Linked DNA regions of Homo sapiens. The protein of the gene in region 4 interacts with the protein of the main gene of each other region in a pairwise test. Each region holds a gene or a part of one and is shown on either strand. Other genes may lie near its edges.

Evidence for each region.
Region 1: the proteins of ZNF417 (region 4) and NAB2 interact in binary tests that used the Homo sapiens proteins (3 or more experiments, as listed by UniProt).
Region 2: the proteins of ZNF417 (region 4) and PICK1 interact in binary tests that used the Homo sapiens proteins (3 or more experiments, as listed by UniProt).
Region 3: the proteins of ZNF417 (region 4) and RNF187 interact in binary tests that used the Homo sapiens proteins (3 or more experiments, as listed by UniProt).

The regions. Positions count from the first base shown.
Region 1 is NC_000012.12:57,084,644-57,092,784, forward strand, and holds the start of NAB2 (NGFI-A-binding protein 2), read left to right. Parts: upstream 1-4,470; 5' UTR 4,471-4,628; coding exon 4,629-4,711; intron 4,712-6,481; coding exon 6,482-7,355; intron 7,356-7,804; coding exon 7,805-7,938; intron 7,939-8,141. Other genes in the region: NEMP1 (nuclear envelope integral membrane protein 1), read right to left, coding at 3,171-3,441. UniProt on the Homo sapiens protein: Acts as a transcriptional repressor for zinc finger transcription factors EGR1 and EGR2. Isoform 2 lacks repression ability.
Region 2 is NC_000022.11:38,067,249-38,075,057, reverse strand, and holds part of PICK1 (PRKCA-binding protein), read right to left. Parts: intron 7,355-7,809; coding exon 7,288-7,354; intron 6,987-7,287; exon of another isoform or gene 6,910-6,986; coding exon of another isoform or gene 6,651-6,909; intron 6,026-6,650; coding exon 5,936-6,025; intron 4,221-5,935; coding exon 4,167-4,220; intron 3,377-4,166; coding exon 3,314-3,376; intron 2,582-3,313; coding exon 2,448-2,581; intron 2,059-2,447; coding exon 1,966-2,058; intron 1,286-1,965; coding exon 1,235-1,285; intron 752-1,234; coding exon 607-751; intron 195-606; coding exon 1-194. UniProt on the Homo sapiens protein: Probable adapter protein that bind to and organize the subcellular localization of a variety of membrane proteins containing some PDZ recognition sequence.
Region 3 is NC_000001.11:228,482,736-228,490,463, reverse strand, and holds the start of RNF187 (E3 ubiquitin-protein ligase RNF187), read right to left. Parts: upstream 3,083-7,728; 5' UTR 2,976-3,082; coding exon 2,586-2,975; intron 1,505-2,585; coding exon 1,412-1,504; intron 1-1,411.
Region 4 is NC_000019.10:57,906,328-57,914,136, reverse strand, and holds part of ZNF417 (zinc finger protein 417), read left to right. Parts: intron 1-1,947; coding exon 1,948-2,077; intron 2,078-4,022; coding exon 4,023-5,587; 3' UTR 5,588-7,809. UniProt on the Homo sapiens protein: May be involved in transcriptional regulation.

The DNA.
Region 1 (8,141 bases), on a different chromosome or scaffold from region 4:
TTTCCAGAGTCTTTATGGTTCCAGTAACACCACAGGATGAAGTCCAACATCCTTAGTATGATCTAAAACTCAGAGGCAAAGACACAAATAACTATAATAATGTTATTCAATGTTTGTCACCAATCTGTAATGAAACAATTTCAGAAATTAAGTGTAAGCATTTAGAAAGTTTTATAGGAATTTGACAGAGAAATTTTATATTTATTGAATCTAACAAAATGGTAGTTTATTTTGTTTTTTGAATAATTCATTTTTAGTGCATTCTACAAAAGTAGTGGACAATAATAGATTGGAAATGTTTTAAAAATTGGTCCTTAACCATACTTTGAAAAGCACTGGTCCAAAATATTTTTAATGTAATGTACCTGTACACCTCCCTAGGCTCGTTTCTAACCAGCTCCACCCACCACCCAGCAATAATGAACAACCTTTTATAGTTTCTGAAACATATCACTCTGTTTCATACCTCCACCTCCATGGAAATGCACTTTCTGGCCTCTCTGACTTGACTTCCCTTCCTCCTAGAATTTTTGTTTTTGTTTTTGTTTTTTGTTTTTGAGACTCACTTTTTGCTCTGTGGTGCAGGGATGCAGTGGCGCCATCAAGGCTCACTGCAGCCTTCAACTTCTGGGCTCAAATGTTCCTCCCACCTCAGCCTCCTGAAGTGCTATGATTACAGGTGTGAGCCACCGCCCTGGCCACTCCTGGAAATCTCATACTGACTGCATCATCACCTCCTTTGGATGCCTGTCTAAACCAAGGCCCCTCACAACTCCAAGCAGAACAGATCACTCACCCTCTTATACTTCTGTCATTGTTGTACCCATATTATTGCACTATGTTGTAATTATTCGTTTATAGGTCTATTTCCCCTATTAGTCTGTGAGCTCCTTAAAGGCAGTGGTTAGGATTATCTGTCTTTCAGGAGTGAAACATTTCTTGTAAAATAACTAACTTGAAGGACAACATTCCTTAGATGATAAATTCTGCCATGTTACTGAAAGAGAAAAAAGGGATCATTACTTTATACTTTTCTATTACCAGCCAGGACTTCGGCCTACTACCTTTAGCATCTGAGTGTGAATTAATTTACCAGAATGGTGGACATTTTAGAAGGCCAAGGAGCCAGATTTGTGGGACTCACTGGAAACTTTACAAGGGAAAGAGATATGGAAAACAAATGTCTTCACTTAAACAGTTTTGCCCAGGCTCAGCCCCTTTGGGAGTAAAATCTGTGTCATGTGCCCTTTCAAAGTTGCACAGGCCTGTGAATAGGATCAATTTATTCATTTCAGAGGGTCCACCAGATAACAGGCCTATCCTGGAGAGGTCCTGGATTTCGGCTGAAACAAGCAACTATAATTGGAAATGTGTACAAAGAGCAATGAGGAGGCCACCGAGGGGTGGGAGGAATTAATTCTGCCTGGAGGAGTGGAAGGGGTCCAGGAAGGAGAGGGTGAGCCAAACCTTGCTGAGTGAGTCGGATCTGGCCCAGTGGAGACGTTGGGGGAGGAGTGAGCAGAGCAATCTGCTAGATGAAAATCTACACGTGCGCGTAGGGACGACAGTCTCTGCACTCCTCTTCCGCCCACTTTCCTCCCTTTCCTCGCAATCGTTTCCCCTTTTCTTGGAAAACTAGGACTGAGGATACTGTTTCCCTTCACGGAGGAGACCAGCACAGATAAAAGAATATTAATCCTTTTTATCACGAGATCAGTTCCTCTGGTCTGTCTTTGAGAGCACTGGGGATGGGGAGAGCAGGTGAGTCAGGCACAGAAGTGGTCCTTCTTTGAGTGAGCCAAGGGGACACAGGGGAGAACAGGTCCCATGCAGGAAACAAATGAAAATTTTTGTATTTGTCCCCACTCCCTTTTTGTCACCACTCCCCCCCCCCCACACACACACCTGTCTCTTTATGTTTTTCTATAGTTTCCCATGGTCTCCGTCTTTGTCTTTGCCTCTTTCCCTTTGCTACAGGCTGGAAATTCCTTGTTCTCAACGGAAGGGAGTAGGAGGGGAGTTGGGGGTGGCAGGAGTGGGCGGGAAGAACAGACATCTCGGCAGCTCTGGCTGCGGGCTGCGGGGGCGCTCTGGGCCTCTGGCGGGCCCTGACAAGTCAATGATTTTTTAAATAGGGGCTCATACACAAACCTAGAGAGAGAGAGGAACACAGATATACAAGTGGATATAAAGAAACATATAAATACATAATCTCGGGTACAGAGACACAAACTGGCAGTAGCGTCTTAAATATGCTTAGCATTCTACAATTTAGAGAGTTTTCCCGTACATTCTCTCATCCGAATCTCACGACAATCTTGAGAAACAAGGGCACAAAGACACAAACACCCGGTAGTTTCACTCTCACACACGGGTTCGCACCCGGACCCCCGCTGGCTCCCCTAGGGGAGTGGGCAGGCCCCTTCTGCGGAATTTCTCTTCCCTCGTCCCTCTCTGGCCGAGCACCCCCTCTCCCAGGACCCGGGAGCGGAGAGCTCAAAATCGGCTCCTCCCTCCCCCTCTTTCCCGGATCAGGACCGGGACCCGGGCGCCCCGCGCCCAGTAGGTTGCCGCTCACTTGCTCACGCCCTACTCCGCCTCCTCCTTGGGCGGGCGTCTCCCTCCAGATCCTAAGGCTCAGCGCCGCCCCAAGGGGGCCGGGGTGGGAGGGAGGGGGGCGCCTCGAGCAGAGGCTGCGTGGGCGGAGGATGTGCGTCACGGGGAGCGTGGGCTGGGGGAGGGAGGGGGCACGTGGAAACCCGGGGCCAGCGGCTGGCAGCCCGGGATCCAAAATAACCTGAGGTGGGGGGGGAGGGGTCGCCCACACCCCGTACGGGGTCGGGAGCGTCCCCAGGGGAGCCCGTCTAGCCGCACCCTCCAGTTGCGGGGCGGGGGACTGGGAGACGGGACTCTGCTCGTTCCCACCACCCCCACTGTGTTTGGCGCTTAATAGGTTGGAGAAGAGGACCTGAGCAACTGAAATCCTCCCACCAACAACGCGCTCCTTCTCCCCGGACCCCACAAGGCGGAAAGGTCTCCTCGCTAGGCCACATTGTAAAACCAGCCCCGGTCCACGGCCTCCACGCCCCGCCATGCCCCACCCCAGCCCCTCAGAAGTGCGGACAGAGAGGCGGGGCGGGGCTGAGATTCCGGACTAGGGGAAACCTCACCTGTGGCCAGTCCGCTCGCTTTCCCCGGCCCCCACCCCCCCTCCTTTCCCTGGGGCTTAGAGTCTATGGGCCGGGCCCTTAGAGCCCCCGCCTCCCCCAACAGCCCTCCCAGCCGTGGGCGGGAGTGCAATGCGAACCAGATGGGGCTAGGAGAAACCAAAGGGGGAGACGGTGGTGGGTTGCAGAGGCGGGGGCTAAGCTCCTTCAAGGCGCTCCTCCTTCCAGCTCCGCCGCAGGAAGTCACGTCGTAGGCTCCCGACCTCTTACTCATCTTCCACTAGACTCTCGGGCGAGGTCCCTAATAGACGGCCCCAGGAAGGGTATCGTCTTTGTCACACAAAATTCCCAGGCAGGGCCTCATCCTCAGCAAACAGAGGACAAGTGGAGGAATCCCTGCCTGACCTACGCGCTGACAAAAGCCGACGCGTCTAATCAACACGCGCACCTAAGTGGTGGCGTGCAGCATAACCCTCCCATTCCTGTTTCCCAAACTTTCCAGGCTAGCATGGAGGCCTGGGTTTCTGAGAGCGACCCCCTCAGATTATTCCATTGGGGCTGAGGAGGGGCGCGGGGATATCTAGGAGATCCCTGCAGAGCCCCACGCTCTCAGGCCCGCCTTAAGTGCACACTATACGGGAGTCAGATGCACGCACAGGAGAAGCCGCACAGCCCAGCCTTCGCTAACTTTTCCCGGCTCACTGCTAACATTCACACGTCCAGCACCACAAGGCCTGAGTATGGGCAACGGGCGTCCCCGTAGTTGTTTAGGCGCGTGTGCACGTCCGTGCGCTTCTGTGTCTTTGTGTACTTGTGCGTGGTTGTGAAACTCCTCTCTCAGCTCGGAGGGGTGGGGGAGAGAAGGAATGTCGCCGGCGGGGCGCTCACGTGGGTACGTGGGCGCCAAGAGGGCCGGCTGTGCATCCGGCGTGGGCGGCACAGAACGACCTCGCCCCGCCCGCTGGGTCCCCAAGCCCGCCCTGCACAGCCGGGCCTCGGTCACCTCGGTCCCCAATTCGGCGCCCCGGCTCTGAATCCCCGCCCCCGCCTCCTGCTCCACACCCCCTCCCCCCCCGTCTCCGCCTCTCCCAGTCTCTAAGCCGCGGCGTCTCCGCGGCCGAGAGGCCCCAGCGCCCGCCTCCCCGGCCCCCGCCCCCACCCCCGCCCCCGGCTCTGCCCACGCCCTCCGCCCGCCAGCCCGGCAGCCAGCGCAGCTCCGGGCCTCGCTCCCTGTGCGTCCTGCGGGGGCGGAGGCGCGGAGAGGCGGCAAGCGCAGCCGGGGAGGGTGGGGGGGCAGAGGCACAGACAGAGGCGCGGAGGCTCGGAGAGAGAAGACGTGGAGGGAGGGACAGAGCCTGGACAGCGGTGGACACGGCATCGTGCGCGGGGAAGAGGGCAGCACGCAGCAGGCGCCGAGCGCCGGGCACCGAGAAGGGCAGCCCGGGTGATCTCCGGCCGTCCATGCACAGAGCGCCTTCCCCCACAGCCGAGCAGCCGCCGGGCGGAGGGGACAGCGCCCGCCGGACCCTGCAGCCCAGACTCAAGTTAGTGGGCAAAGGGAGGCAGCGGGGAGTGGAGATGGGTGGAGCTGGACTTGGGAATGGGGTCCAGAGGGCGGAGGTCGAGGGGAGGACGTGGGGAAGCAGGACGGGGGTGGGGGGTGGAGACTGATGGAAAAGGGGGTGCGTCTTCGAATTAGGGGGCCCTGGGAGCAGGCAAGCATCTGATGAAGCTGGATATGAAAGAGTAGTACCCAAATCTCCATTCCTGGTTTACTCTGTGGGCTCCATCTGGCCTAAGAGCCCCCTGCAAAGAATGTGGGAGCCTCCAAGCACCAGGGGATGCCCTGGAGCTCGAGCTGGCATCAGTGCGGAAGGTGGGGGGACGCTCAGTTGCCTCAGTCCCTCGTTGGCACGGAGCGCGCGGGCCCCCGGTGCCTTTGAGTTAAAGGAGCATCAGCGGGGGAAAGGGGGGGTGACGAGGGAGGCAGGGAGGCCTTAGGCGTTCCTTCCCATATCTGTCCCTTTATTCACAGAGCGGGGAGGGGAGTTTCAGTGTGCAGCCCCTTCATCAAGAGGCCTTGAGCCGCTCCCCCACTCCACTTGAAGATGCGGGTGGAAAATATGGGAGAGGAGAGTAGGCGGGAGCCCCTGGGCGGTTTTCGCCTACAGACGCTACCACTGTGGGAGTGTGTGTGGGCGGAACGGCCCCGGAGCAGAACAATTGCGCCCCTCCCCCTGCCACGGCCCCTGAGCTGAAGGAAAAGGCTGACCGAGGAAGTGGGGAGTGTCACTGCTAGGAGAGGGGCCACTGAGGAGCACTGGGCAGCCTGGAAGGGTGGAGAGGTTCTGAGGGGAGAGAGGAAGCGTGCGTTAAGAATGCTTAACCAGGCCGGGCGGGCCCGGTGGCTCAGGCCTGTAATCCCAGCACTTTGGGAGGCTGAGGCGGGTGGATCACGAGGTCAGGAATTCGAGCCCAGCCTGACCAACATGGTGAAACCCCGTTTCTACTAAAAATACAAAAATTAGCCGGGCATGGTGGCGGGCGCCTGTAATCTCAGCTACTCAGGAGGCTGAGGCAGGAGAATCGCTTGAACCCGGGAGGCGGAGGTTGCAGTGACAGCGCCACTGCACTCCAGCCTGGGTGACAGAGCGAGACTCCGTCTCAAATAAATAAATAAATAAATAAATAAATAAATGCTTAACCCCTGGGAAAAGCTGAGCGGAGAAGAGTAAGGCACCACCTGGCTCACTGAGTGGGAAAGCCAGGGAAGGTGCCACACCCTCCCTTTTAGCCACCTGGGGCTGTGGCCCCTTCACAGGGAATGAAGCTGGCCAGCAGCGTCCACTGTGGGGGAGACTGGGCTCCTACATTCACTTTAGTATGGGTGACTTCACTTCAGTGTTGAGACTGCTGAGTGTTTAGAGGGGAAGGTGAGGATTGTGTTTTGGGGGAGAGGGAGGTCCAGCCATCCCAGGTCGGTGCTGGTCAGCCTCAGCGCTCAAGTTCTTCTTGCCCCAGACCAAAAAGATAAAAGCTGAAGATAAGGTTGTAAGACGCTTCGACTCCTACAGACACAGGCCACTGACTTTTGGGGCTTCGGGCCAGTCTAGGACGGCACTGGCTTGTCCATGCCTCTGAGCAGTGCCTGATTCTGAGAGTCTGTACTCAGACCTGGGCACTGGGCAGGATAGCATCCAAATGAGGGAGGGGAAGAAAAGCAGGCAGGAAAGAGGGAACAATTGTTAGTGTGGGTTGGTACCCAGTAGGGGGACTTGCACCGACTGCCTCTCTCTTGTGCCCCTCCTTCTCAGGCCCAGTGCCCGAGCCATGGCACTGCCTCGGACGCTGGGGGAGCTGCAGCTGTACCGGGTCCTGCAGCGCGCCAACCTCCTTTCCTACTATGAGACCTTCATCCAGCAGGGAGGGGACGACGTGCAGCAGCTGTGTGAGGCGGGTGAGGAGGAGTTTCTGGAGATCATGGCACTTGTGGGCATGGCCACCAAGCCCCTCCATGTCCGGCGCCTGCAGAAGGCACTGAGAGAGTGGGCCACCAATCCAGGGCTCTTCAGTCAACCAGTGCCTGCTGTTCCCGTCTCCAGCATCCCGCTCTTCAAGATCTCTGAGACTGCGGGTACCCGGAAAGGGAGCATGAGCAATGGGCATGGCAGCCCAGGGGAAAAGGCAGGCAGTGCCCGCAGTTTTAGCCCCAAGAGCCCCCTTGAACTTGGAGAGAAGCTATCACCACTGCCTGGGGGACCTGGGGCAGGGGACCCCCGGATCTGGCCAGGCCGGAGCACTCCAGAGTCGGACGTTGGGGCAGGAGGAGAAGAGGAGGCTGGCTCGCCCCCCTTCTCCCCCCCTGCAGGGGGAGGAGTCCCTGAGGGGACTGGGGCTGGGGGGCTGGCAGCAGGTGGGACTGGGGGTGGTCCAGACCGACTGGAGCCAGAGATGGTACGCATGGTGGTGGAAAGTGTGGAGAGGATCTTCCGGAGCTTCCCAAGGGGGGATGCTGGGGAGGTCACATCCCTGCTAAAGCTGAATAAGAAGCTGGCACGGAGCGTTGGGCACATCTTTGAGATGGATGATAATGACAGCCAGAAGGAAGAGGAGATCCGCAAATACAGCATCATCTATGGCCGTTTCGACTCTAAGCGGCGGGAGGGCAAGCAGCTCAGCCTGCACGAGGTGAGAACCCCCAGGCCTCCTAGGATTGCCCTTGACTTCCAGGTCTCCAGCCGCTTACCTCTGCGAGTTTCTACAGTCTCCGACTATCTTTCATTATCTCTTGACCAGGACCCCAGGCCCTGATCCCCTCCCCAACAGGCCCCTACCCCAGCGGCCGCAGTGCTTCCATCCTCAGCTGAGGGGGAAGCAGAGATACAGGCAGCACCGAGCTGTTCAGCTCCTTGTCACTCAGGACCCCACAGGAGAGGAGGAGGCCCCGGGCATTCCTAGGAAGCTGTGGGTGCTGACCTCTGTCTTCCCACCTCAGAAAGCTCCCATGTAGTGTCAAAACCAAAGCAAGCGTCTGATGGATGGGCCTCATTTGTCCAATGGTGAAGGGGTGTGAGGAGGTCTGGTGAGGCAGCGGGGAAGTTCGAATTCTGACTCTCCTGGCTGCCCTCCCTCCACAGCTCACCATCAACGAGGCTGCTGCCCAGTTCTGCATGAGGGACAACACGCTCTTATTACGGAGAGTGGAGCTCTTCTCTTTGTCCCGCCAAGTAGCCCGAGAGAGCACCTACTTGTCCTCCTTGAAGGGCTCCAGGTGAGACCCCTTCCCCAGGTCCTTCCTGGACTGGAATCCTGCTATGGAGTTAGATCATGTCCTAACCTTCAGCTCAGGCAGCTCTAGGCCTGCTTCCCGCCCACCTGGATGTCCTGCTTTTGGCCAAGTCAGCTTGTCTCAGGTCTGGTCTCTCCTCCCATCCATGTCGGGTCCCCCCAACCCCCTACAACAATAGTGCTTGA
Region 2 (7,809 bases), on a different chromosome or scaffold from region 4:
TGCCGTGTCTTCCTCCTCCTCCTCCTCCTCCCCATCTGTGAACTCCTCCTGGTTGAGGCCATAGGCCAATGTGGTGTGCGCCAGGTCTACCTCGATGGGGAAGACGTCGGCATCCCGCAGCACTGCGTAGCAGTCGTTGTAGTACTTGGACATGGTGGACACGAGGCGCTGCAGCTGGAACACGATGTCCTGGACTGGGGTGGGAGGTCGGGGGACAGGCTGCAGTGGGCTCTGGCTGCCTGCCTCAGGGAGGAGACTCTCCCAGCCCACCCGGCCCACCTCTCGCCTCCCCTGGGCTTCCCACTCGGGCACTTCCCTGACCCCTCATGACCTGGCAAGGGGCGGAGGCAGGGGCCGCCCAGCCCGGGGCCTCCCCGCTCCCAGTTCAGGGAACGCAGGAGGCTGCAGGGTAAATGGATCATGGATGGCAGCCCACGGAGCCCACGCGCACAGGCCAGCTCCACCCAGGCCAGGCTCTGGGCAGATGGCTGGGCTCCTGGAGGGGCTTTACATCTGGGCCGTGGCCTGGCCCTGAGAGTACCCCTCTGGGCCTCAGTTTTCCCACCTCTGAAATGGAGAGCGGACGGGGAGGAGGGCGGCGCTCACCGTGCTTCTGGTCCAGCAGCTCCATCTTCTCCAGCACATCCTTGCGCATCTGGGAGAAGCGGGCGCGCGCCTCCTGGCGGCAGCGCAGGATCAGGCGGTACTCATAGTTGCCGGTGCTCACCCGGTAAAGGGGCTCGCCTAGGGCCTGGGGCGGGGGTGGGACAGGAGTGCCTGCTCAGGGACGGCCTCGCACCGCACTGTGCTTTCAAAGCCACGGCTGTTCTTCATTCCTGAGACCTCATTTCTGAGACTTCAGTGTTTCTCAGAAGCACTCAGTGATAGCTTTGAAGAGAGGAAAAAACCAAACCCAAACCTCTGCCACATTCAATGAACACTGGCCACGAAATGGATCCCGACAGCAGAAAAATCAAACACTTAAAAGCGCCTCATAGGAGTGAAGAAAATCCGATTTCCCTCCAAGAGTCCCCCAGACTGAGGGAGTGGTTCCCGGCCGGGTGCCCAGCACCCCGAGGCCCAGCGAGCGGGACTGGGAAGATGGCCCTAAATCTCCAGGAACGAGAGTCCAGCCAAGTCCCCCCGGTCTCTCCCGGGTTGGCCTGAGCCACCTGCTATCCCTGGCAGACCAGGTGGGGGGAAGTACAAGCCCCCCACCCCCTCCAACACTCACAATGCAGCTGTATTCCTCGTCATCCATCTCCTTCACCTTCAGGCAGTACGACTGTGTGGGACAGGTGAGGCTGTCAGAGTGGCTACTACCCCCACCCCAGGTCCCCAGCTCCACCCCCATCACCCACACGCAGCAGGAGAGGCTGGCGCAGGTGTTCAGGGAGTCCCAGAGCGGGCAGCGGCAGGTGCTGAGGGATGACAGGGCCTGAGGCTTAGGCGGCCGAGTTGACCAAACTCAAGGCCCAAGAGATGCTCTGGGGAAAAAGGGGTCTGTCGTTAAAGGAGCTTAGGAAGACCCTTGAAAATTCACACTGCACATCAGCCTAGCAAAGGCTCTGATAAGTCCTGCAGCAAAGGAACCTTGGCTTGCTTAATAGAGCATTTTCTCTCAATTCCTTTGACTGTAGAATAATTAAATGTAAAACTCACGAACGTTCACTGACACCCATTTTATGCTCACTCACCTAGTCTAACCCATTGTTTAAAGGCAACAAATCCCAAGGGGTCAGAGTGCACACAGCGAGAGCCATGCCCGCCCCAGGCTCTCAGATGCTTCTTTGTGCAGGCGCAGCAGGGCTTTGGCTGCACCTCCCTGGGCCTCTGGGCCCACACCTGGAGCAGACATGCTGTCAGCTCTGGCTGGCCTCGCTGGCCGCAGCATGGCTGACTGAAGTGGGGCAGATCTCCAGGGTGGGCGCTTGCCCTAGCAGCCTGGGCACCTGGACTACTCACCAGGTACTCAAACTTCACGTCCAGGTACTTCTTGATGGTGAGGCGAGTGTCCGGGATGGCTTTGTTGAGGTACGTGTTCAGATCCGTCAGCATCTGGAAGAGGGTGGGTGGATGCTGAGGCTGTCACGGCAGGGGTGTGCCAGGGTGACAATGAATGGCACTGATGCGTCACCCTTGTTGGTGGACTCGACTATCAGAGCCAGATGGTGCTCCCTGATGCCTTGTCCCTCTCAAGGATGAGAAGACTAGTGCCAGGCCTAGGGCAAGCTGTGACTCAGTGGCGAGCCAGGGTCAGAAGCCAGCCCAGAGGTCAATGGCAAGGCCCAAGGGGGCACAGTGACTCACCCACAGTCCACTGTGTGGGTGACTGAGCCAGAGGCTGTACCCAGGCACAGGACTCCAGCATACGACCTTCTCTGCATGCCACACTCTCCCCTCCCCACCCTCACACGCCAGACACACACATGCTCAATAGGACCTACCGGCTTGATGGTTTTCAGAAGCCGAATGCCGAACTTCTCGATGCTGCGGTGGGCATCGGCGAACTTCACAAAAGCCTCGCTCGCAGCTGGCTGGGGCTCCCGCACCCCGATCACGGAGAACACGTCCCCAAAGGCTGCAGGACAAGTTTGCCTTGAAGGCTGCCCCTACTTGGCCCCCTAAGAGAAGCCAGGGGTTTGTTGGGGAGAAGCAGGGCAGGGGGCCTGGCAGGCTGGAAGCCAATGTCTGCACAGGGGCTACACCTCCAAGAGAGCTGGTCTAAACCCCCTGAAGGAGCTGAGTCTACACCTGGAGGAAACTGGATTGACACCTCCAAGAGCTGGTCTGTGCCCCCTAGAGTCCTGAGTGTACACACCAAGGGAGTTGGCCCTCATTCCCCAGAGGGACCAGTGAGAGAAGACTGGGTCAAGGTTTGTGGAGGTGGCGCCGCCTGAGGCAGAACACTGGTCCGAGTCTAGACACCTGGATTGGAACAACAGCTCCACCACTTGGGAGCAGTGTGGCCCTCTCCTTTGTCTGGGCTTCATTTTCTGCAGTAGCTGGGGTCAGCTGCAGTCGGCCTGCCCAGAGTTACAGGTTGTCAGAAATATAAATAAGCAAGGGCCTTGTGTACTGCCAGTGGCAGTGTGAGGAGACAGGGTGGGGCCTGTTCATCGTTGCGGCCCTTAAGAGACCAGCTGATCTAGATGTTCCCCGCAGGCCCATCGCAAATCCCAGCACCTGGGACCAGGCCCAGCCCAGAGGGAGCCTGAGGTCAGGCGCTGTGGGTCTGACCCACCTCAGCATGGGAGTGAGAGGCCCCAGGGATTGCCCACGGTCACACCACAGCTTTGGGGGATGCCATTACCCCGGTGAGTCTGCGACAGCTCATAAAAGGCCCGTAGGAGGTTCTTGGTGTGTTCCGTCATCCCTGTGGGAGAGACCGAGTGATGCGGAATGGGGACGCATGGCGGGGACCACACTGGCCCAGGGCAAGGCCTCCAATTGCCCATGCCACCCAAGGCCTCTGCTAGGCCCTGATACATGGCCTTTCCCCACCGCCCAACCACAGCCCAGGGGTAAAAGCTCAGTCCGACCCAACCCGTGAGGAGCCCCATCAGACAGGGGCGCCAGCATTTTGTAAGATGCAGGGGTACACAGCCTGCTGTGGGCTTTAGCCCTGGGACAGTGTGGGATTCCGGGGGACTCTCGCTATGTTTACAAGTGCTATTCTCTGAATTTTTATGAGTATCAGGTTTTGTTTTTTTTGAGATAGGGTCTTGCTCTATTGCCCAGACTAGAGTGCGGTGGTGTGATCTTGGCTCACTGCAACCTCTGCCTCCCTGGTTCAAGCGATTCTCATGCCTCAGCCTCTCGAGTACTGATTATAGGCACACACCATCATGCCTGGCTAATTTTTGTATTTTCAGTAGAGATGGCGTTTCACCATGTTGGCCGGGCTGGTCTCAAACTCCTGACCTTAAGTGATCCGCCCACCTCAGCCTCCCAAAGTGCTGGGATTACAGGCGTGAGCCACTGCACCAGGCCCCTGAGTTATTTTTAAATTCAGAAGAAGTATATATTCTTAAGAACTCTTAATGCCCATGGTCCTAGTATTTTGTAGGCTGGCATTCCTAGTGCCAGCACCCCTGTTGCCACTCTGCTGAGAGCATGCTCCCTGGGGTAGAGCTAGTGCCAGGACGAGGCCACCCCCCACCCACCTTTGTATAGCTCAGCGGTCCGCTCCAGCTCCTCTAGCCTCTTGACAAGCCCATCTGTCGGGATTCAAAGAAGAGGGGAGGTCAGTGGGCTCAGCAAGCCACAGGAGGCCCAGGGCCATGCTGGGGAGGGGAGAGGCAACCCCAGAGGAGAACCAGGAAGGGAAAGATCAGGGGTCCCAGGGAGGGGGATTTGGCAGCTCGGGTCAGCTGGGTTCAAAGGTGTTTTGTAAATGACTAGGCCCTCCTCATGGCCAGCGGAGGGTCCGTGCCTAGCAGGCAAAGCTCCCACACTTCTAACACAAAGCCTGCTGACAGCTGGGGAGGAAGGCTGGCAGGGGCCATAGGAATGGAGATGGAGCAGCCAGGCCTCTAGCGCAGGAAGGACATGGTCTCTGCCTCCCAAGCACACAGATGGCTCAGAAGGGAAAACGCAACTTGGGGAGGGAGGGGGAAATTCAGGAAGGCTGAGAGAGCTCACACTGGGAAGAGGCCTTGGTGATCAGTCATTGGCTTAGTGTTTCTTGAGCACCCACTGTGTGCCAGCCACCATGTCAGGCTCACTTTGAGCCAAGTCTTGCTCTCAAGGCTGAAAGCCCAGCAGAGAAGCCAGCCCAGTGGCCGGGCGATGGACAGCAGTGTGATGGTGAGGGCTGCAGGGGAGAGGTGGGGCAGTCAGGTGCTCTCTGCTCCCCAGCCTCCTGTGTTGACCTGGGTCAGGGTTTTTTAGCAGAAGAGGGGAGGAGCGGAGGCTGTGTTCAGGCCTCTCTGGGCAGGGAGGTGGCAGTGCGACAGGCTGTCGGGGAAGGAAGGGAGCAATTCAGAGGTCTTGGGGAGGCTTTGGCCACCCGGTGGCCTCCAGGCCTGGGTTCCCCAGAGCCTTAGCACCTGGCCAGCGGCAGGAAAGGAGCCATGTAAGCATCGTGTTGTTGTTTTTAGCTGGGTCATGGGACATCATGACAGCTTCAATTTTAGAAACCCTATTTAAGGCCAGGGAAATTGCAAGGTTTGGGGGGAAAAACACAACAACCAGTTCTAATTTCATCTCAACGGCTGGTAACTACAGTAACAGGGATTTATAGGCACGGCACCAGGAGGCTGAAAATAGCAGCCGCCACTTTTGTACACCATTTGGAACAAGCTCAGTCCCCACCCCCACTTCCTTAGCCAATAAAGCCCAGTGTGCCCAGCTGAGCCTACAATTTCTAGAAGTATTTATATCTACCCCACAGGCACACTGCAGAGCTGCTGCTATTTTTAAACTCGGACTGGCGACGGTAGGAGGGGGACTGAGTGTTTCGCTGGCCACCCCAGGGAGGGAAAGTGTGTGCGCATGTGTGCATGCGTGTGTAAATGTGCATGTACACGCCTCCCCCCTCGCCTGCGCAGCCACCACGAAGGGAGGACCTGCAGAGGCAAGGGCAGCAGCACCACCTCCTGGACAAAGGAGGCAGGAGGTGGGCCGCGAGAGTGCTGGGGTGAGGGGTAAGGGGCTGAGGGCAGGGGCAGAGGCACCTCCCCACACTAAGTCTATTTTCCCATCTGTGACCTGAGGGGCACTGGCTAAGACAGCCCAGCTGACAGCTGTGGACCCTCCGGGAGCTGGAGAGGCCTCTGGGGGTACAGAGATGGTGACTTCTCAGTTCCACGGGCAGAGGCCAGGGTCAGACCCGCGGGACCCACAGCAGCTTGGTGGGCAGCCATGGTGCCCCCCACTCTTCTCAGCCTGGGCTTGAGTCCCCGGGGCCCCAGCTGGGTGGGAAGGGACTCACCATTGCACAGGATGGCCCGGCTCAGGCCCAGAGCATCTGCGGTCCCTGAACTCATGTTCTCCACCAGCCGGTGCTTGACTTTCTTCAACACTGAGCGGGGGACAAAGGACCTGGTGAGTCTGTGGCTGCCCAGAGGCCATCCCTGCCCCCAGCCTTACCTCCATGCACAGGGAGCACCCCACAGGGGGCAGAAGGGCTGCTGGGGGTGGCTGTGAAGTGGGGAATGTCCAGTGGGGAGGTCCTAGGCCCCTGCCCTATTCCCTCTGCTTCACAGAGGTGCTGGCAGCCTGGGCAGTTAAACATGAAGCGCTTCGCCCAGGGCCTGCTACGCAACATCAGCTGCTGGTTGCTGAGAGCCCAGTGCTGCCCGGGCTCAGCACAGGCTAATGGAAGCCAAGGAGGCCTCTTCCCCTCCTCTGTGTCACATCAGGACCTAGGGTGTCACATAAAGGGGAGGGGGAGAAGAGGGGCCCCTGGGCTGGTTATGTGAAAGTAATGGGCACCATCAATGACCATGAAGCTCGGACCCCAGACTCAGTTACTGCATCTGACCAGCTTAGTCCTAGGAAGGGGACTTAGTCCTGTGTTGGAACCAGAGGGTTTCGGAGGGAGCTCCCAGATAGATCCAGCCTGCCCTTAGCCCCTTGGCCTCTGGCCCTAGGGTGTATGAAGGGGATTGCTGGGCTCCAGAGCTGAGACCTAGGTGTGCGCTCACCAGGGGCTGCAGCGCCCTCTCTGGGTCTCAGGCTTTGATCCATAATGTGAAGCGGCCGGTCCAGAGGACTCGAAGCTGCTGTCCAGCTCTTGAGTCTTAAAGTTTCTACAGAACCGAGGCTCAGCCCCTCTAACAGGAGGGAACTTGTCCCAGGGCGCAGACCCTCTGCCCAATGCCTGAGGTCCAGTTCAGATCCAGAGTCCCCCTGGGAGCTGATGGCAGGAGAGGCCAGGGAGGAGTGCGCTGTGCTAGAGGGCATGAGGCGCCAGGCCAGGGTTAGGCTGCTCTCCCTTTATGAAGAGTGAGGCCCTGGGCCATGGAAGCCGAGGCGCTGGCCTGCAAAGGACAACCCTAGGGTAGCAAGTCCCCAGAGGAGATGGCAGAAGCAGGGAGGTAGGGGTGAAACGCGGGGGAGTGAGAAACCAGGGACAGAGTACAAGAACAGATGCAGGGAGAGCACCGGGAGGCCTCCCAGGCCTTTCAGATTTGCTTGGTCAGAGGTCAGAGCCCACAGCCATGTAACTCTGGATTCTCCTGTCATAAAGGGGAGGGCAGGGCTGGCTGTGGCACTTCTCCTTTGGGCCAGGGCCCATCCAGGGAGGCTGCTGGACACCCGTAACTGCTCTGACCAGCTTACCAATGTCCAGGGACATGCCCTGCTTGGGGTCCGCCTGCAGCTTGTTGTAGTGGATGGTCACCTCCCCCTGGAAGAGCAGCACACACAGACTAGTGAGCGAGGCTCCACACCCTGAGCCCCTTCCCAGCCAAGACTGTTCTGGACTGAGACTCCTGAGCCCAAGGCCGGGTGCGGTGGCTCACACCTGTAATCCCAACAATTTGGGAGGCTGAGGCAGGCAGATCACTTGAGGTCAGGAGTTTGAGACCAGCTTGGGCAACATGGCAAAACCCCATCTCTATTAAAAATACAAAAATTAGCTGGGCGTAGTGGCGCGTGCCTGTAATCCCAGCTGCTCAGGAGGCTGAGGCAAAGAATCACTTGAACCTGGGAGGCGGAGGTTGCAGTGAGCTGAGATCACACCATTGCACTCCAGCCTGGATGACAGAATGAGATTCTGTCTCAAAAAAAAAAAAAAAAAAAAGAATCCTAAGCCCCAGTAAGGGCCAGGCTGAGCGCTGTGACATGGCCCCACCTTGTGAC
Region 3 (7,728 bases), on a different chromosome or scaffold from region 4:
CCTTGGGGTAACACAGGGTTACTGAAAACTTGGAGGTCCCCAAAGCCTTCCAGCCTCACTTGCACTGGGCAGTGTTGACCACTCACAAGGCAAGGAGAAGTTCAGAGCAGCCCCAAGGGCAGTGTGGAGTGCCAGGGGTCTGAGTGGCATCAGGGACCCCATGTGTAACCCGTCACTGTCTGAGGGAGGCCTGCACCTCAGGCCTGTGGATAGCAGGCAAGGGCTTGGCAGCACCAGGAGCACAGAGCCCACCTCAGCCTCAAGCTGGGGTAAAAACGTGGGCCTCAGCCTCGAGATGCAGCCAGTTACCCAAGAGCTGCTGCACCTGTGAAAAGCACTCTGTCTTTCAGGTTAAAAGAAGGAGATAGGAATTTATGAAACGCAGAGAAAATGGCACACAGGTTTTTACTACACGAGGAAAAAGTCACCAAATAGAGTTTAAACGACTAAAGAGCTTTACTGGTGAGTAACCTAAAAGAATCTATGGGATGTCCCCTTGGGATATAATACTGTGGAAGGCACCCAAGGAAAGTAACGCTGCTCTGGTCTGAATGTCTGTGTCCTCCCCAAATCCCCATGCTGAAATCCTCATCCCTCAGGTGATGGCGTTAGGAGGCAGGACCCTTGGGAGGTGATGAGGTTGTGAGGGTGGAACTCTCAAGAACGGAATCAGTGTCCTTACACAAAGGCCCCAGAGACACCCTCACTTCTTCCACCATGTGAGGACACAGTGAGAAGACACCATCTATGAACCAGGAAACGCCCTCACCAGACAGGGAATCTGCCAGTTCCTTCATCTTGGACTTCTAGCCTCTAAAAAATAATGAGCAACTCTCAGATCAGAACAAGAGGACCACAGAAAATTACAGATGTGTTCTAAAAAAGAAAAAAAAAATAGCACTTTGGGAGGCCAAGGCGGGAGAACCGCTTAAGGTCAGGAGTTTGAGACCAGCCTGGGCAACACAGCAAGACCCCCACCTCTAGAAAAGCATTTTAAAATTAACCAGGTGTGGTAGCACGTGCCTATAGTCCCAGAGGCTGAGGTGGGAGGATCGCCTGAGGCCAGTTCGAGCTGCAGTGAGCTACAATCATGCCATTGCACTTCAGCCTGGGTAATGAAGTGAGACTCTGTCTCTTGGGAAAAAAAAAAGAAGTCTGATGCTGCCATCACCTACAGGTAAAATGTGAGGAGAAAAAGAGGCTTCCACTGGCTTTGGCTAGATTCTATTTGAGAAATACAAACACATCCTAAAAAAAATACCCTGAAGCTCACTTAAGTCCAGAGGCCCCTCCTCCAACCAACCAGCTGAGCAGTTCAGAGGCCTGGCCCACTTGGCCTGGTGGTCCCTTTGTCTAGAGCCCTGAGCCCACAGTCCCCTCATTCCAGGCTGCCCCAGGTCCCCCCACTTGCCTTCCACACTGCAGCTGCTGACTCTGCCTGGCCATGCAGGTCCCGGGCGTCATTCAAGTCCTTTCTCATGATTTCCACAGACCCCTTGTTCTCCTGTAAAGAAAAGAAGGTCACCAGGGGTGGGCAGAAGCTCTGGGTCCCCCAACCCAGCCCAGTACTGAGGGACATCACCCCAGCTGACTGCACACAGTCTGACCATCCCAGAGATAACCTCGAAGCCCGGTTGTCTAGGGCAGGAACGCACAGGCAGTCAAAAGGTTTCTTGGGCTTCACACCTATTCAGAAGGATCTGGGTGCTGGGGCTAAGGGGACTGTCTAGGTGGGTTTAGGAGTTCTGTGTCTGTAAGTGGCCCTGTTCAGTGTGAGTTCGGCCTGTACCAAAGGTCTGCACAGCCTGCCCTACACCCTGCCCTGCCTGAGCCGGATGGGGGTCGCTCTGCCCGGTGGCAGGACCCCCAATGCAGGAGGAGCACCCAGGGACACAGTCTGGCTGGCTTCCCCTCCCCTGTATTGAAGAGCAGGACCCCAGGCTGGCTGTTGTCTCCTATTCTGTGTCCCACAACCAACCCGCCATGGGCAAGGCTCCAGACTCCCGGACCCGCTGCTGCCAGACTCTCAGAGCGGGTTTCTGAAAGATGGGAGAGGGGACAGGGGGTGCAGGCGAGGGCTGGGTGGCCCGGGGAGCAGACGAGAAGGTGGGCCAGGCCTGTGGACACAGTGGAATACAGAGGGGCAAGAGGCGTGATGTCTCCCCCAAGGGAAGAGTGAGTGGAGGAGTCAATCTGTAGGAACTAGAGGGGGTCTATGAGGGCGAGACAGGGCACAGCTAGTGATGGGACCACAAAGATGGGCGCTGGTGGGGGAAGGACTTCGTAGAAGGTAGGGGGTGGGGAGATAAGGCACCGCCCAGCAGGGGACACCAAGACGGGGAAGGGGACCAGACTCCGAAGAGACGCAGGAAATATGGGGAGGCAAGCCGCAGGAGGGAGGGGCCCAGCACACGCTGGAGAGGGGACCCGTGGCGGTGAGGGGAGGGGGACAATCCGGGGACGGGGACAATCCGGGGACAGGAACAGTGGAGACGGGAAGGGCCCAGGGCTCAGGGGGACCGGGGCGGGGGCGGAGAGGCGCAGGGCACCGTCCGGGGTGGGGCACGGGACCCCGCGGCGCGCACCTTGCCGCGCAGCGCCTTCCTCCAGCGCGGTTCCCACTCGGGCGGCTCGGGGCCCGCAGCCATACGGCAGGCGGCGCAGAGCGGGCCGGCGTCGGCGCGGCACAGCAGCTGCAGCGCGGCCTCGCTGGCCGGGCCGTCGCGCGCGGGCGCCGCGGCCGCCTCCTCGAGCGCCAGAAGGCGGCGGCTGAGCGGGGGCCTGCCGGGCTCCACGGCGCGCTGCCAGCAGTCGTCGGCGCACTCGGGGCACGGGAAGGGCCCGTCCTCCTCGGCCCAGAAGCGCACCACGCACGCCCGACAGAAGCGGTGGCCGCAGTCGGCGCGCACCGGTTCCCGGGGCGCGCGCTGGCACAGGGCGCAGGCGGCCTCGGCGGGGCCCGCAGGGAGCGCCAGGGCTGCGGGCGGCGGGGCCGGCAAGGGCGCAGGAGCGGCTGGGGAGGGCCGGAGACCTAGACGGCCGGCGACCGGACGGAGACCAGCAACAGGACGAAGACGCCAACGCCGGGGACGCGCACGGGGCGGGGTCGGGGACGCGCACGGGGCGGGGTCCGGACCGCGGAGCGCTCTGCCGATAAGATCCTGGCAGCGGTGTGCTGCAGCCGGAGGTCCTGGCCGCGCTGCGCTCCACAGACAAGATCCTGGCAGCAGTGTACTGCATCCTTAGGTCCTGGCCGCGGTGGGCTTCTCCGCCTGGATCCTAGCGGCGGTGCGCTCCTCCGCCTTGATTTTGGCAACTATGCTCTCCACCTGCAAGGTCCTGGCAGCGGCGCACGTCACCGCGCAAGTCCTGGCAGCTGCGCGCTTCACTCTACTGCCTGCGGACCGGCCCAAGTCGTATCCTGAAATCTTACTGGGCTGTCCCTTCCTACTTCAGTAACTCCTGCGAAAGAGGGAAACAAAGTTTTATTTTTACTTGAAGGTTCCATTTTTAAAAGGTTGTTTTTGTAAGCTGCTAGGATCTGAGCTGCGCGTACCCCCGCGGTAGCTCGCCCGCGTGGGCTGGGGACGGGGCGGGAAATGGCCTGCGTGGGCCTCCTCCGCTGCTCTCATCCTGCACGGACCCGCCCTGCATGGGCACGCCCTGCGTGCACGGGCCTGCCCGCGTGGACGTGCCCTGCGTGCACCCTTCCTTCAGGGACCCGCCCTTGAACGGCCCTCCGGACGTGGACACTCGTATACGCCCACCCTGCGTGGGATCTCCCTGCGTGGACCCATCCCGCTGAGCCTCTTCTCGCGCAGCCTCCCTCTGGCCCCCTGGGAAGCTACCCTGGTTGTCCGCTGTCTCCTGGCTGGGGGGAGCTCTCATTGATTCTGTGATGATGCATGACAGAAGAGCATTTGTTAGCTTTGCTTTGCTTTTCTTTCTTTTTTGAGACAGCCTCGCTCTGTTGCCAGGCAGGCTTGAGTGCAGTGGCGCGATCTCGGCTCACTGCAACCTCCGCGTCCCGGGTTCAAGCGATTCTCCTGCCTCAGCCCCCCGAGTAGCCGGTATTGCAGGCGCCTGCCACGACGCCCGGCTAATTTTTGTATTTTTAGTACAGACGGGGTTTCACCATGTTGGCCAGGCTGGCCTCGAACTCCTGACCTCGTAATCCACCCGCCTCTGCCTCCCAAAGTGCTGGGATTACAGGCGTGAGCCACTACACCCGGCCGTTAGCTTTTCTTTAAAAAATAAATTTAAAGGAAAGAAATAAGCCTTTGGGAAGAGCAATCTTGTGTTTTTGTTTTTTAATTATTTTGAAAACAAGCAAGCATGGTTAAAATAAGATTGTGCAAGTTTTGCATTTTAAAAAATTAATCTGGGCCGGGCGCCGTGGCTCACGTCTCTAATCCCAGCACTTTGCGAGGCCGAGGCGAGCGGATCACAAGGTCAAGATATGAGACCATCCTGGCTCATGGTGAAACCCCGTCTCTACTAAAAATACACAAATTAGCCGGGCGTGGTGGCGCATGCCTGTAATCCCAGCTACTCAGGAGGCTGAGGCAGGAGAATCACTTGAACCAGGGAGTCGGAGGTTGCGGTGAGCCAAGATCGTGCCACTGCACTCTAGCCTGGCGACAGAGCGAGACTCTGTCTTAAAAAACAAAAACAAAAAAAAATTTTTATAAATCTGTATTCCAAGCAAGCGCAGGATCTAATGAGGTATTTTTGTCTTTGTGAAGATTTTTTAAATCGACTTGGAAATGCACTAGATGCCCGTGGGAAACATGAATAGTAAACCGAGGTTATTTCTGTGTAGTAAAGATTAGAGGCTTCCAGCCGAGCCTTGCTGATATTGTTGAGTCAACTAGGAACTTGCTGGAGAGAAAAGTAAAAAATATAAAAAATGAGCAAACTTCATAATGAACTAATCTTGTGAATGAGAAAATATCAAAAATTATAATTAAAGGCAAATAGCCAAATTAGGAACATTGTAACCACAAATATACAAAGAGTTTATAAAATTAGGTAAGGAAAAGCATGATGGAAAATACACCTTGTCATGGGATTTTTCAAATCACAAAAAAAAAAGCACACAAATGATTGAACACACATGAGAAAAAAATGTACACTCTGCCCAGTTAAGAAAGAGGAAAATAAAACGAGACTCTCTTTCTTTCCACTATTAAGTAAGCAGACCAAACAAAAAAAAGGAAACTTGGCCGGGAGCCGTGGCTCAGGCCTGTAAACACAGCACTTTGGGAGGCCGAGGCGGGTGAATCATCTGAGGTCAGGAGTTCAAGACCAGCCTGGCCAACATAGTGAAACCCTATCTCTACTAAAAATACAAAAATTAGGCTGGATGTGGTGGCACACGCCTGTAATCCCAGCACTTTGGGAGGCTGAGGCAGGTGGATCACAAGATCAAGAGATCGAGACCATCCTGGCCAACATGGTGAAACCCCGTCTCTACTAAAAATACAAAAATTAGTTGGGCATGGTGGTGCACGCCTGTGGTCCCAGCTACTTGAGAGGCTGAGGCAGGAGAATAGCTGGAACCGGGAGACGAAGGTTGCAGTGAGCCGAGATCATGCCACTACACTCCAACCTGGCGACAGAGCAAGACTCCCTCAGTTTCAAAAAAAAAAAAAAAATACAAAAATTAGCCAGGCATGGTGGCACGTGCCTGTAATCCCAGCTATTTGGGTGGCTGAGGCAGGAGAATCGCTTGAACCTGGGCGGTGGAGGTTGCAGTGAGCCGAGATCACACCACTGCACTCCAGCCTGGGCAACAGAGTGAAACTCCATTTCAAAAAAACAAAAAACAGAAAACAAACAAACAAAAAAAACACTTGATTCTGTGAATACTGCTTCTTGTAATCCACGTAGCAGTATCGATTAAGGATTTTCTGATTGGAATTCCTTTTCTTAGAAAACAAACTATAAAAATAACAGGAAATGAAAATAATAAAAATTGGGTTGTAAAAAATTGGGCTGTTTTGTTTTGTTTAGAAATGTGGCTGGGAGAGGTGGCTCATGCCTGTTAATCCCAGCACTTTGGGAGGCTGAGGTGAGTGGATAGCTTGAGCCCAGTAGTTCAACACCAGCCTGGGGAACATGGCAAGAACCTGTCTGTACAGAAAATTTTTAAAATTTAGCTGGGCGTGGTGGCACGCACCTGTGGACCCAACTACTTGGGAGGCTGAGGTGGGAGGATCACCCGAGCACAGGAGATTGAGCCTGTAGTGAGCCGTGATCATGCCACTGCACTCCAGCCTGGGAAATGAGAGAATTTTTTAAGACCTTGTCTTAAAAAAAAGAAAGAGAGAGAGAGAGAGAGAGAGAGGTGGGGGCGGGGGGTGGGGGAGAGAAGGAAGGAGTGGAGGGAGAGAGGAAGGAAGGAAGAAAGGGAAAAGAAAAAGAAGAAAGGAAGGAAAGAAAGAAAAGGAAGGAAGGAAGGAGAAAAAGAAGGAAGGAAAGAAAGAGAGAAAGGAAGGGAGGGAGGGAGGAAGGGAGAGGAAGAAAGAGAAGAAAGAAAGAGAAATGTATGTCATATCACTATTCATTTTGGAGAAAAAAAAAAAAACCTTGAAGGTCCAATACTAGGGGCATGGCTTAGCAAATGGTAGCAGCCATGAACTTGCACATGTGTGCATTAGAGACTTTTGGAAGTATACACTGGCAAAGATTGTTGCCTGAAAGCCTCTCTCCCTTACCACCAGCAGAATCCACATTGTGTGGTGCCAGCATCCCCACTTCCCAAGACAGGGTGGCTGGTGTAGGTGCCAAGGGGAACCCTTGGTCCTCTCAAATTTTGATGAAAAATTGCAAAAGGCTGGTCGCGGTGGCTCACGCCTGTAATCCCAGCACTTTGGGAGGCCGAGGCTGGCAGATCACAAGGCCAGGAGATGGAGACCATCCTGGCCAACACGGTGAAACCCCATCTCTACTGAAAATACAAAAATTAGCTGGGCATGGTGCTGCATGCCTGTAGTCCCAGCTACTCGGGAGGCTGAGGCAGGAGAATCGCTTGAACCCAGGAGACGGAGGCTACAGTGAGCTGACATAGCATCACTGCACTCCAGCCTGGGTGACAGAGCCAGACTCTGTCTCAAAAAAAAAAAAAAAAGAAAGAAAAATTGCAAAAGGCAGATCAATTGGAGAAAAGGCAGACACATTTATTTACTGTGTCTATACAAACCTAAAGATATGGGGGAAATCGTCCTTTTTTTTTTTTTTTTTGAGACGGAGTCTTGCTCTGTCACCCAGGCTGGAGTGCAGTGGCGCGATCTCGGCTCGCTGCAACCTCCGCCTCCCGGGTTCAAGCGATTCTCCTGCCTCAGCCTCCCGAGTAGCTGGACTACAGGCACGTGCCATACCGCCCGACTAAGTTTTTGTATTTTTAGTAGAGACGGGGGTTCACCGTGTTAGCCAGGATGGTCTCGATCTCCTGACCTTGTGATCCGCCCACTTCGGCCTCCCAAAGTTCTGGGATTAGAGGCGTGAGCCACCATGCCTGGCCAAGATATGAGGGAAATCATCCATTTTTATGCTTAGGTTCCACAAGGTATGGACAGCCATGCAGAAATAGAATTGGGCAAATAGGGTCGGAGCTAATGAGAAGAGCCTAAGTGGGGACACCCAGCCAGGCCTGTCTGTCTAGATTCTTATGGCCTCTCTGAGCAGTCTTCCTTCCTTCCTTCCTTCCATCCAGGACCCTCTCTG
Region 4 (7,809 bases):
TTGATCTTAGCAGCTGTAACCATGGACGCTGCATCAGCTGACATGAAGTTGGTATTGACATAATATTGACTGTGGATATCAAGAGTGTTGTTTTGGCCATATGAAGAGTCAGTGACCAATAAATGGTGGCATTAAATGGATAACTAGACATACAGGATGGGGTATCTGGGAGGGTGTTGATACTGGAGACATCCAATATTTGAAAGCTAATGGGTGAACTTCAGTAAGTTAGTTATGGGTCCATTTAGGAGGACATGCTTCAGATTTTGGTGGTAAATCTTTTCAGGGGCCAGGAAGGTGTGACTACAGGCTGAGGAGTGGATCTCTTACTTACGTCCCTGAGTGATGTTATTGGGCTTCCTAAACACCTGAGAGGGTGTGAGTGAACATCATGGCAGGATGTATCAGACAGTAGAGTTTGGAAGGGGACATAGACATCCGAGGAGAGAATAGATGAGATAGATGCATGCAGAAGCATAGGAGTAAGGAAGATGACACTTCTGCCTGAGTTGGTGCCAAGTTGTAACTATTTATCACTGTCTGGATTCATAAACGTTTTGAGATGACTTTGGGAGTGCCTGGAGAGTTTCATTCAGCTTGGTGCATGTGGGCAGTGAAAAATATGCTCATCTGTGATAGTAGATGTGGTTTGGTTCACAAATCCAGGGGCTGGGCTTTAAACAGCATTAGATGGACAGAGGAGGGTTGCTACAGCTGAGGTCTCAGCTGGTGCAGCACAAAAGTGAAATAGGTCCATGGATATCTGAAGCCATATGTGGTTCTGTGTGGCTATGGAGTCATTCCGGGAGACGTTCACAGGATGATTTGGGATTACCACTGCTATTGTAAACCATGGAAATTCTGTGTTAATATTGGATCCTATTTGTATTTGTCAAGCATAGTCTGGATGCTTATCCACATTTTGGTATAAGGCCAGAATTGAAGGCCCAATATGATGTGTCACTTTGACATCTTGTGAAAGTGGGACAACCTTAAAAGGTGTGAGTACAAATCTCATTCCCACTCTGCTCTCTTGAATAATGTATCCTAGCCTAACAGCCCGTTTTATCAAGGTGATAAGGCAGGGTTCCAGGTTGTTATATTTTGTGGTGGGTTTCAATTCCATCCCTACCAGCAGAGTTATGGAAACAAACCATTGCATATTCCCAAGGGAATCATGGGCCGTTATACCCTCTTCATCTTGTGAAATAATTTTATTTGTGGGGGCTGGGTGCAGTGACCCACCCCTGTAATCTCACTTTTGGAGGCCAAGGCGGATGGATCACTTGAGACCAGGAGCTCAAGACCAGCCTGGCCAACATGGTGAAACCCCCTCTCTACCAAAAAAAAAAATACAAAAATTAGCCGGGTATAGTGGTGCGTGGCTGTAATCCCGGCTACTTGGGAGGCTGAGGCACGAGAATCACTTGAACCCAGGAGGCGGAGGCTGCAAAGAGCCAAGATCATGCCACTGCACTCCAGCCTGGGTGACAGAGCTAGACTATGTCTCAAAAAAAACCCCAAAAAACAAAGTTCTATTTGTGGGGATGCCAGAGAGAGGCTGATGGTAGGGAAAACTCAGGTAGGGGTGGCCATGGGGATGTGTCTTTGCAGTATAAAGAATGATGTATATTTAGAGAGGGAGTTTGTCCAATGGGCTCAGGCAGCTGCCCTGGGCTTTACATGAGCTTGGATATCGCTATTCAGAAGGGGATGGACCTTTTTATGTCAGGACCTCAGCATGGATACCTATTTGTCCACTTACTGCTTATTGCTGATGGCAATTGACCAGTGGGCCCATGAAGAGACAAAGGCACTAGTGGACATAGTTTCAACACTATGTTGGGGACCTTGGGAGGAGGATGGGCAAGTGTGGGTGTGTGGGAGAGGTGGGTTGTGGTACCTCAGCAGAGGGGCTGTTTGTGGTTTCATCTGTCACTATCATAGCAGGGCACTGTGACCTTTGAAGATGTGGCTGTGAACTTTTCCCAGGAGGAGTGGTGTCTTCTTAGTGAGGCTCAGAGGTGCTTGTACCGTGATGTGATGCTAGAGAACCTGGCTCTCATATCCTCGCTGGGTAAGTTGCTCACGCTCACCTTTGTGACCTGAGCTAGTGTTACTGTTCCCCTGTTTTTCATTGACAGGACTGTCTTTCTCACTTAAGGAGCCTGGACACAGGTTCCTTCTACACTTCTCTATGTAAGTTGTGTGTATTGCCTTTTCCTTTCCTTAAGCACCTCCAACACCTGCTTTGCTCCAGGCTCCCAGGGAAGGAGTCAGAGTCAGGAGTCTAATAGGCACCTAAGTGTATCCACTTTGCCTGCTCTCTGGCTGTCAGGTGACTGTCCAAATCGGTAGCTCTTGTGTGCCCAGGTTCTATTAACACTTCCTTCCTCTATCTGACAATGCTTTGTGCCTCCCTGTGCCAAGAATTGCCTTCATTGACATTGTCACTACCTACATAGACCATAGACCATAGACTCTTCTTGCAAGACCCTGCTTAGGAATTCTTTTGTAATACTTACCTTACTCTCCTGTGGGCTGTCAGGTGCTTAGTTGTCCTGAGCTAGTGTTGGCTGTTCATCTCTGCTGTCTCTCCCTTCATAGTTACATCGTCGGGTCCTATGTACTGGGTGTGAGATGGAGAGACCTCCATGTTTGACAAGATGTGGTTCAATTCAGGCTCATCACGATAGGCTCAAAGGGAGCCTGTCCCTCAGGAGTGCCATGCTGGGGGAGGGCATGACTTCAGGGGTTTATCCAAATCATACCAGAAACCATTTATATTTGCCAAGTGTTTTTGTGGCAATATGAGTAGGCACACACTATTTGTCTTTTTCTCCCCATTGTTGAGAGTTTCACACGTGTTAGTTCTGTACCTTTTCACTTCTACTGTGATATCCACCCCAGCACTAATACTCACATCTCACCCATTTTTCTTGTGCTTTCATCTGCACTTGTCTCTGATATTGGTGTATCGATTACATATTAGGAAGTGTATGCCCTATGTTAAACCATCCATGACCACCCTCTGCTGTGTTGTACTCATGTTTTCTTGGTCTTGACATATGCTTCTATATTTATATTTTTTGAGATGGAGTTTCGCTCTTGTTGCCCAAGCTGGAGTGCAATGGCACAATCTTGGCTCATTGCAACCTCTGCTTCCCAGGTTGAAGTGATTTTCCTGCCTCAGCCGCCCAAGTAGCTGGGATTACAGGCCTGCACCACCACACCTAGCTAATTTTTTCTTTTTTTAGTAGACACAGGGTTTCACCGTGTTAGCCAGGCTCGTCTCCAACTACTGAACTCAGGTTATCCACTTGCCTCACCCTTGCAAAGTGCTGGGATTACAGGCATGAGCCACCGCGCCCAGTCCATATGCTTCTACATAGCACTCACATGTCATTAGGAGATAAGGTCCCGTACACAACTTGTGTTTAGAGGAAGGAGCTGTGGACCCTGCCTCTACTCCCTGTGTTGCCTGTATGCTTGTGCTCTTTACATCATGAGGCCTCCTGGATTCTGTGACCTTTATAGCCCAGTAATGCTAGGCAGCTCATTCTTCTTTTTATTATTATTATTATTATTTTGAGATGGAGTCTCGCTCTGTTATCCAGGCTGCAGTGCAGTGGTGCGATCATGGCTCAATGCAAACCTCCACCTCCCGGGTTCAAATGATTCTCCTGCCTCAGCCTCCCGAGTGGCTGGGATTACAGGCGCTCACCACCACATCCAGCTAATTTTTGTATTTTTAGTAGAGATGGGTTTTCACCATGTTGGTCACGCTGGTCTCGAACTTCTGACCTCAGGTGATCCACCCGCCTCAGCCTCCCAAAGTGCTGGGATTACAGGCGTGAGCCACTGCGCCCGGCCAGCAGCCCCATCTTCAACTTGAAGCCAACATTGTGTTCCTGCAAATATTTCTATAGATTAATTCCTCAATTTGTGAGACGTACTTGTGGGTGGGCTGTGCCTTCCCGTCAGAGGTACTTTGCACTTGACCAGCATTTTCTTGCTCTCAGGTTGTTGGTGTGGATCAAAAGATGAGGAGGCACCTTGTAAGCAGAGAATTTCTGTACAAAGAGAGTCTCAGAGCAGGACTCCTAGGGCAGGTGTTTCTCCTAAGAAGGCTCACCCCTGTGAAATGTGTGGCCTCATCTTGGAGGATGTTTTTCACTTTGCTGACCACCAGGAAACTCATCACAAGCAGAAGCTGAACAGGAGTGGAGCATGTGGAAAAAACTTGGATGACACTGCATACCTTCATCAGCACCAGAAGCAGCATATTGGAGAGAAATTCTACAGAAAGAGTGTCAGAGAAGCATCGTTTGTAAAGAAACGTAAGCTCAGGGTGTCACAGGAGCCATTTGTCTTCCGCGAGTTTGGGAAGGACGTTCTGCCCAGTTCAGGATTGTGCCAAGAAGCAGCTGCTGTAGAGAAGACAGACAGTGAAACTATGCATGGCCCACCCTTTCAGGAGGGAAAAACTAATTACAGTTGTGGAAAACGCACAAAAGCCTTCAGCACCAAACACTCAGTTATTCCACACCAGAAACTTTTCACTAGAGATGGATGTTATGTGTGCAGTGATTGTGGAAAATCCTTTAGCAGATATGTCAGCTTCAGTAATCATCAGCGAGATCACACTGCAAAAGGACCTTATGATTGTGGAGAGTGTGGGAAATCTTATAGTCGAAAGAGCAGCCTTATTCAACATCAGCGAGTCCACACTGGAAAGACAGCTTATCCCTGTGAGGAGTGCGGGAAATCTTTTAGTCAGAAGGGCAGCCTTATTAGCCATCAGCGTGTTCACACTGGAGAAAGGCCTTATGAGTGTAGAGAATATGGGAAATCTTTTGGTCAAAAGGGTAACCTCATTCAACATCAGCAAGGTCACACTGGAGAGAGAGCTTATCACTGTGGGGAATGTGGGAAATCTTTTCGTCAGAAGTTCTGCTTTATTAACCATCAGCGTGTTCACACTGGAGAAAGGCCTTACAAGTGTGGAGAATGTGGAAAATCTTTTGGTCAAAAGGGCAACCTCGTTCAACATCAGCGAGGTCATACTGGAGAAAGGCCCTATGAGTGCAAGGAATGTGGGAAATCATTTAGGTACAGATCCCACCTCACTGAACACCAGAGACTTCACACTGGGGAAAGACCTTACAATTGTAGGGAATGTGGGAAATTATTTAACAGGAAGTATCATCTTCTCGTTCATGAGAGAGTTCACACTGGAGAAAGGCCATATGCGTGTGAGGTATGTGGGAAATTATTTGGTAATAAGAACTGCGTGACTATACATCAGAGGATTCACACTGGAGAAAGGCCGTATGAATGCAATGAATGTGGGAAATCATTTCTTTCCAGCTCTGCGCTTCATGTTCATAAAAGAGTTCATTCTGGACAAAAGCCTTATAAGTGCAGTGAATGTGGAAAATCCTTTGCTGAATGTTCCAGTCTCATTAAACACAGGAGAATTCACACTGGAGAAAGGCCTTATGAATGTACCAAATGTGGAAAAACATTTCAGCGAAGCTCTACCCTCCTTCATCATCAGAGTTCACACAGGAGAAAGGCCTTATGAGTGCAGTGAATATGGGAAATCGTTTGCTGAAACATCCCGTCTCATTAAACACAGGAGAGTTCATACTGGAGAAAGGCCTTATGAGTGCTGTCAATCTGGGAAACATCAGAATGTCTGCTCTCCTTGGTCTTAAGAGACTTCGCATTGGAACGGAGTCTCATTCTGTCACCCAGGCTGGAGTGCAGTGGTGCAATCTTGGCTCACTGCAACTTGGGCCTCCCAGGTTCAAGTGATTCTCCTACCTCAGCCTCCCAAGGAGCTGAGATTACGAGTACACCACACCATGCCCGGCCAAATACTTGGTTTTCAGTACCACAAGAGCTATGAGCTGGTTATCCACTTCATGTGGAATCATAAGTGTCCCCAAGTGACAATACGTATAGATTGCTGGGCAGTGAAACAGTTAAGATGTCACCGTAGCTTGCTTTCTATTCAACATCTTTCTAAGATTACCTTACTATTTCTTTTGTTCCAAGTTTGTATTTCCTCAGAGTTCTCACATATGGAAAGGATACACACTTTGTAGAAACAAGAACTTTATGTTATCCAAGTTCTGGGATAGCCATGAGCTCCAATTACCTCAGAGCTCCGAGTCCTCTACTCAGTACCCGTTGAGATTTATGTGTTCTGAGGCTTTTGTCTTCTAGCTACTTACTTCATTCTCCATGGGTAACGTCATTCATCCACATTAACTAATTTCCTCACTCCAAGCTCTTTTCTGGAGATAATCTCCAGTCCCTGTGCAGACACTGTCATTGCACTTTCTGCTGAAATGGTAGTTTCTTGCCAGCAAGGTGAGATTATGGAATCCAGAATCTTTTTTCAGGGGCCACATGCCCATTTCCCCACTTGCATGAATGTCGACACTGTAGCCACAGTTTTGGCCGTAAATGTGAATTTGGCAAGTAACCACTGTTCCCAAATTGGGAAATGTCCCAGTCAGAAGAAGATTATCTGGGACACTGATACTGACAGGGAGATGGGACATTCTGAGGGACCCGGAGGCAGGGAGCCACCTCCTCAGCTTCCCTGAGGGCTGCCTAGAATCTCTCTTGTTTCCTCTCACTCTGAATTATTCTTCCTCTCATGACTGACCAAACACATGGAACCTCACAAAGTCCATTTTAAGAGCTTTATCTTGTGAAGTGAAGAACATGAAGATAGTTTGAATCAAAGTTATTGAGTGGACACTTAATGTCTTTATAACATTTTTTACATATGTGTTTGTGTTTTTTGGGGAGCATAATTTGCAAATGGAATATCTGTTATTTTACTAAGATGCTTCATGGATACAAGAGTTAAAACTTCCTGTCCCATTTAGTGAAACAAAAGGTTAAGAAATGTGGATAAAGCTTGTAAGTTAGAAATGGCAAGATAATCAGCTATATGAAGAATCTCAGCTGGGTGTTTTGGCTCAGGCCTGTAATCCCAGCACTTTGGGAGGCTGAGGTGGGTGGCTTACAAGGTCAGGAGTTCAAGACCACCCTGGACAATATGGTGAAACCCTGTCTCTACTAAAAATACAAAAATTACCCAAGCATAGTGGTGGGTGCCTGTAGTCCCAGCTGCTTGGGAGGCTGAGGCAGGAGAATTCGTTAAACCTGGGAGGCATAGGTTGCAGTGAGCCGAGATTGCACCACTGCACTCCAGCCTGGTGACAGAGCGAGACTCCGTCTCAAAAAAAAAAAAAAAAAAAAAAAAAAATCTCAATCCCTAAATGTTACCTTTTATAACAGCAGGTTATATGGGCTTAGATATTATCCCTAAATTTTTTTTTTTTTTTTTTTTTGAGACAGAGTCTCACTCTGTCACCCAGGCTGAAGTGCAATGGCATGGTCTCGGCTCACTGCAACCTCCGCCTCCCAGGTTCAAGTGATTCTCTTGCCTCAGCCTCCCAAGTAGCTGGGCCTATAGGTTCCCTCCACCACGCCCACCTAATTTTTGTATTTTTAGTAGAGATGGGCTTTCACTACGTTAGCCAGGCTGGTCTCAAACTTGTGACCTCATGATCCACCCCCCTCAGCCTCCTAAAGTGCTGGGATTACAGGCATCTGCCACGGCACTCGGCTTATCCCTAGAAATCCTATGATAGCATGATGTATAGGCACCTAAAGGCATGGCACTTGAGAAATGTGAATAAGATTGTAAGTTACAAATAGCAAGGTACAGTCAGATGTTAACAGTCTCAGCCCCTAAATGTCACCTTGTATTACAGCATGTTA